Regions from separate parts of the Homo sapiens genome. Here region 1 is linked to region 2. Evidence: fine-mapped expression QTL. A gene starts in region 2. The other region holds a variant in brackets. All regions are shown on one strand. Distances are between the middles of the regions.

Region 1 (2,809 bases), 42 kb before region 2:
TTGGGCTCCATAAACACTCAGGGTAACCGAAGGCAAGTCTGGCCCATCCTCCCTTCTCAGGGCTCACTTTAGAGAACACTCCGGGCAGTGCTTCTGTTTCAGTAACTGTTGCGTTTGTGTCTGTCGTCCCTGCTAGGCCCAGAGCTCCCCGGAGTGAGACTGACCTCATTCATCTCCCTGTCCTCAGCACCTGGCATAGTATCTGGCTTGTGGTGGGCACTAAAATGTTGGTTGACTTGAGGAACAGGAAAGAAGTGGCTGATGTTCTGATTCCAAAGCCTGTGCTCTGGTCCCAAGCAGGGTGAATTTCAGTAATTAGATTTCTCCAGGATAAACTGATGTCCTTTTCCTAAGTATCAGTAGAATCATGAGGCCCAAGCTTAGCTAAGGAGTAAGAATCCCATTTGTATTTCTAAGTAAGCAAAGCTGAATCCAGGGGCACTTGTTCCAGAGAATTGTCAGCCTTAGGCCCACAGCTCAAATTTGTTGCTTTGCCAAAACTTAGTGAAAATCAAGTGCAAAATCAAGTGTAACTGTCTACAAGAGGCTGGTTTCCAGATAGTCTTGATTTTCATTCCAGCTGATTCTCTTAAAAAGAAACAAAGTGGAAAAAAGTAAAAACAGCCCAGCTGGTTGATCTGTTCTCATTTAAAATTCTAAGAGTTCCAGTTTCCGTACTAAAATAGTGGGGAGAGTTGGCTGTGGCTGCCCTACTTTCCAGGATGAGTTGCAGAAACTGTCAGGGCCCTCCTGGCCTCTCAGGGTTACACTGCACCCCTCCCCCGTCTGCTATCCTGTTGGGGTTAGGCCTCACGGACGGGCCAGGGAGTCTTTGTGGCCAGTTAAAAAGTCAAGAAAACCTAATGTCAAGGGCCCCATGGACTGGCTCCCAGTGAGGGTATCACTAATACTACCATGGGTATGTTCCTGGGGAGTAAAGGCCCAAGGATAAGGAGCAGGAGTTACTTAACAGGGGCTTCATGACCACAACAGCCTACGAAAGACACTCGGGGCCAGGCATGATGGCTCACACCTATAATCCCAGCACTTTGGGAGGCCAAGGCGGGCAGATCACGAGGTCAGGAGATCGAGACCATCCTGGCCAGCATGGTGAAACCCCGCCTCTACTAAAAAAATACAAAAAATTAGCTGGGCGTGGTGGCGCGTGCCTATACTCCCAGCTATTCGGGAGGCTGAGGCAGGAGAATCCCTTGAACCAGGGAGTTGGAGGCTGCAGTGAGCCGAGATCGTGCCACTGCACTCCAGCCTGGGCGACAGAGCAAGACTCCGTCTCAAAAAAAAAAAAAAAAAAAAAAAGAAAGAAAGACACTCAGTAGAGGGTTTGTGTAGCTGTGGTGGTGTGTGAATGTGTCCCTGAGATGCTTGTCATGCTAAATTAGGTTTGATTTGTTTCTAGGGGAGCCAATGTGTCTTGTCTCAGGAGCTCCCAAACACTGGATGAATT[C/T]TGTAGCCCTCACAGCATCAAATCAGGTCCAGGTCTGACAGCAATGTTGAAGATTTTACCATGCAGAGAAAACGGCTCAAGCAGTTACCAGTGACATTCCCTCTTGCTGCTGAGGGAGGAAGTGGGTGTAAAGAAGTGTCAGGTGTGTTAATTAGAAAGGCTTTTTATCCAGAAGGCAGCATGTGGCATAGACAAGGCTGTGTGTGTGTGTGTGTGTGTGTGTGTGTGTGTGTGTGTGTGTGTCTGTCTGTCTGTCTTCTAGTCCTGGTCTATTTGATGGTGTTAGGACTTCATAAAGACCAGGCTTGCTGATGTTTTCTGAGCTCTGGATGGTACAGTGGAGACAAGCTTAGGATAGTTCCTTTTAGAAATGATTTTCGGTATTTGCAGAAAAGAGCTCAAAAAAAGAAAAATGGAGTCACTTCCATCTCTCCTGGGGGGAGAGATGGAACCATTATGTTTATCTTTTTAAATATTTTAAATTTAGTTTTCAATTATGAAAGTAGTGCCTGTTTCAAATGGCACAGAAATGTATACAGTAAAGATGAAAGTTCTCTCCACAGCTCCCTAATCCAACTCCCCAGCAGTAATCACTGTTATAGTTTGCTGTGTGATTTTTCCACAACTGTTTTTATGCACATATAAAAAGGAAATTTTATATAGTCATTCAATAAATATTTATTGAGCACCAATTGTGTGCCAGGTACCATTCTAGATATCAGGAATCCAGCAATAAAGAAACACGCAAACATCTCAGCCCTCACAGAGTTTACAATTTTAGAGGAAGAAGGTAGACAACCAACCAATAAACGAGGAAAGATACTACTATCATGTAGCAGAGGGCGACAGGGATATGGAGAGCAGGGCTGCAGGGAAGTGGAATGGAAAGTGCCAGGCCAAGGTGAGGGGTGAGGGATGAGGAGCGTACTCCCCCAAAGTGCAGACTGTGGTCAGGGAAGGCCTCATTACAAAGTGTCATTTGGGCAGAGACGCAAAGGACAGCAAGAAGCAAGCTATGGAGATATCTGGGGGAAGAGAGTTTCAGGCAAAGAGAACAACAAATAGGAAAACCCCAAGGTACTGGAAGGAAGGCCAGAAGGATGAGAGCTGAGAGAGGCAGGGAGGGAGAGCAAGGGCAGAGCAGTAGCAGAGGGAACTCGAAACCAGGGAGGACCCTGATCCCGAATCTGATGAGAAAGGAAGCCAGTGGAGGGCTTTGAGCATAGGAGTAACTGACATGTTTTCAAAAGATAACTTTGGCTACTGTGTTGAAAGTAGACTGTAGGTTTACGTATGAATAGATATATCTTTTTAAAAAAATAGGCTGGGTGCAGTGGCTCACAT
Region 2 (2,809 bases):
GTCAGAGAAGGCTTTCCTAAAGAAATGATAATGGAGCTGAGGTCTGGAAGAAGCATAGGAGTTTCCTGAAGAGGGTAGGAGGGGGCACTGCACACAGAGGGAACAGGACAGTCAAAGGCAGGCCATTTGGCAACAGGTGACTGGAAGGAACTGGAAGAAGGCCCATGAGGCTGAAGTACAGAGTGAATATGCAGGGTCTAGGCAGACCATGCAAGAATGTGGGTTTCTCCTAAGAGCAATAGGAAGCCTTTTGAGGTGCTCTTAGCAGGGAAGTGAGATGATCACACTTATCGTTTGAGAAGATTACTCTGGCAGCACAGTGAACAACGTATTGGAATGGAACCAAGGAGCATTCAGGAGGCCAGACAGAAGGTATCAGGTATTTGCCTGTAAAATGGGGGTGATGAGAATACTATCTTACAAGCTGTTGCCAGGATCCAATGAGATACTGCATTTTAAGTGTCTAGTCTAGTACCTGGCACATAGTAAAGGCTCAGTAAGCGTCGATATTGTTACTTTTATCATTGGTTCTTTGCAGAGTGCACATATTTCTTATCCAGGTCTGCTCCTGCGTGATGGGGTGGAGGGAGTAGTTGTGGTTTCCAGAGTGAAAACGTGATTTGTGTCAAATCACAATGTCGAGACCAGAATCCAGGATGCCTGAAGGCCCGATTAGAATGGCTTAAAAGTATGGATTATTCAGGAAGAAAAACGGGTTCCAATCGCTCCTACTAAGGACGCTGGAGGGATGGTGAACGATCCTTTAGATGGTAAGCCCTAGCACTTATTGAGAAAAACAGGTGCTTCTTTGGTCGGAGAGCAGGTGTAGGGCTCGCAGCCGCGTGCGCTCCCGCGGAGGCGGGGGACCCTCGCCACTCCCCCGCCCCACGCCCACCCGCGGGCTTCCGACTGCACCTGCTCCCCCGGCTCGGAAACGCGGGCCGGGTGCCGGGCTGCAGGCAGAGGGTGCCCGGGGGAGGAGGTCCCGAAAGCCTCCTCCACACGCCTGCACCGGCTGCCCCCTCCCCAGTCACGTGGCCCGGTGGGTGGGGACCGACCTGAAGTTGGAGAAATCCGGAGCGCTCCCAACCTCGGAGGGAGTCGCCAGTCCTCCGGGCCCGGGCGGTGGACCCTGGAGCCCCGGCTGGCGGCGTGGAGGTGCGTTTCTGAGAAGCCGAGCAGCGGCGCGGGCGGCGGGACTCGAGGCATGGCCCGGCTGTCGGTGATCCCCGGGTCGGCCACGGCGTGGACAGGTGAGCAGGTACCCGCGGCCAGCGGCAGAGATGGCCGGGGCTGCCAGGGCATCGGGCCCCAGAGCCCACGCCAGTCCAGGGGATGCGGGGCCCCCACGCAGGAGGGGGCGGTTGGGTGAAAAGGCCGCGGTGGATTCTCGGACTGCCGGGTCAGTCCCCACCAGCGCCGCCGCCTCCTCGCCGGCTTTGCCACCGGGTGAGCAGGGGACGCGGGACGCGGGACGCGGGACGCGAGGGAGCCGCGCGGGGCGTGGACTCTGTGCCGGCCCCGCCCCCCGCGCGCGCACTGGCTGCTCCCCGCGACGTCACGCTCGGCTATAAAAGGCGCGGCTCGGGGCCCTTGCGGCGCTGGAGGAGCTCGAGGCTGAGGCTGCCGGGGGGCTGTGGGCTACCGGGCCGCCGGCGCCTCAGCGATGTTTTACTCAGGGCTCCTCACTGAGGGCGGCCGCAAGGAGACCGACATGCGGGAGGCGGCGTCACTGCGACAGCAGCGCCGGATGAAGCAGGCGGTGCAGTTCATCCACAAGGACTCCGCCGACCTGCTGCCCCTGGACGGCCTCAAGAAGCTGGGCTCGTCCAAGGACATGGTGAGCCCCCGCCGCCGTTCTCGCCCCGGCCCCGGCGGCTTCGCGCCCGCCGTTTTCCGAGGCCCGGCCGTTGCGGCTTTCACTGAGTCACGGCCCGGCCCGCCGCTGCCCTTGGCTCGCGGTCGCTGCGTCGCGGATTCCTCCCCTTCCAGTACCCCTGCTGCGGTTTCGGTGGGGATTCCGTCGTAGCTTTTCTAGCTTGCGCTCCCCTCGGCTGTGCCTCCTCCCTGGATGTCTCTTCTCCAGTAGAAAGAAGAGGTCCTGCCCTGCCCTCTTGCCCTCGGGTCTTCTTTCTTTTTCCTTATTCTTAATACCGAATTTTGTTCACGGGGCTTGTGCCTCCTATGCTGTGTGGCTGTTCCTATGACCCAGACAGAGGTGATTCCTAATGGCTTTCCGTGAGGGGGAAAGAAGTGGAAAGAGGGTTTTTTGACAGTTGCCAGATCCAGAGGACTTCTGTTGAATCCATTGTCCCCCTATGCAAAACCCACTTCTCTAGTTTTGGTCCTAACTTTGACCTTCCATCCTGAGTGGGGAGAGAGAAAAGGGGCCAAATGTGAAGGTTTCCTGAACCCCCAACATCTCTTCATCATTCTCCTCTTCCAGCCCCGCCCCCAAGGAGTGGGTAGAGGGAGGAAGCCAGGCTGCTGCATCTCACCGACCAGCTAATGTGTGCATCTGGAGCTGGGGTGGGTGCAGTCTTTTTTTCTAGCACAGTTGTTCCTGGCATTAAGTAGAAGCACCTCAGGACAGGGGGCCTGGGGTCAAAGATGGTACTGTCCTCTTTCTATAGAATGGGATGGATGGCTAAGGGTTACCAATATAAAGAACTGTATTTGTCATCCCTCAGCCACTGTAGTGGTCCTGGGCCAAGTTTATGTTTAACTTTGTAGTTTTATCTGGAGTTTTCTTGTAGTTTGATTGTTTTCTTGAATTTCACAATCGCTTTATTCATTTGGGTGGTAATAT

Alleles and levels. Positions count from the first base shown, and alleles are read on the strand shown. Sizes are in standard deviations (SD) of each study's normalised expression.
With allele C in place of T in region 1, the expression in monocytes after interferon gamma of the gene that starts at base 1,601 in region 2 is higher (small effect, 0.38 SD a copy in Fairfax 2014).

Evidence for each region. PIP is the estimated chance that this variant, and not a neighbour inherited with it, causes the effect.
Region 1: its variant is the best candidate, but not a certain one, in a credible set for the expression of NRIP3 in monocytes after interferon gamma (Fairfax 2014, PIP 0.74).

What each region holds. Positions count from the first base shown.
Region 1 is chr11:9,044,510-9,047,318 of GRCh38, reverse strand. All of the region lies in intron 16 of SCUBE2 (signal peptide, CUB domain and EGF like domain containing 2), which reads left to right. All of the region lies in intron 1 of NRIP3-DT (NRIP3 divergent transcript), which reads right to left. Among named protein-coding and RNA genes, the nearest start is that of NRIP3-DT, 42 kb to the right of the region's middle. RefSeq lists an enhancer at 1-281. The variant C/T (reference allele first, on the strand shown) is at 1,466.
Region 2 is chr11:9,002,793-9,005,601 of GRCh38, reverse strand. It overlaps NRIP3 (nuclear receptor interacting protein 3), which reads left to right and starts at 1,601. Exons shown (of 7, transcript NM_020645.3): 1 at 1,601-1,840. The coding sequence starts at 1,667. NRIP3-DT (NRIP3 divergent transcript) reads right to left here and starts at 1,514. Exons shown (of 3, transcript NR_183663.1): 1 at 1,059-1,514. RefSeq lists an enhancer at 1,505-2,424.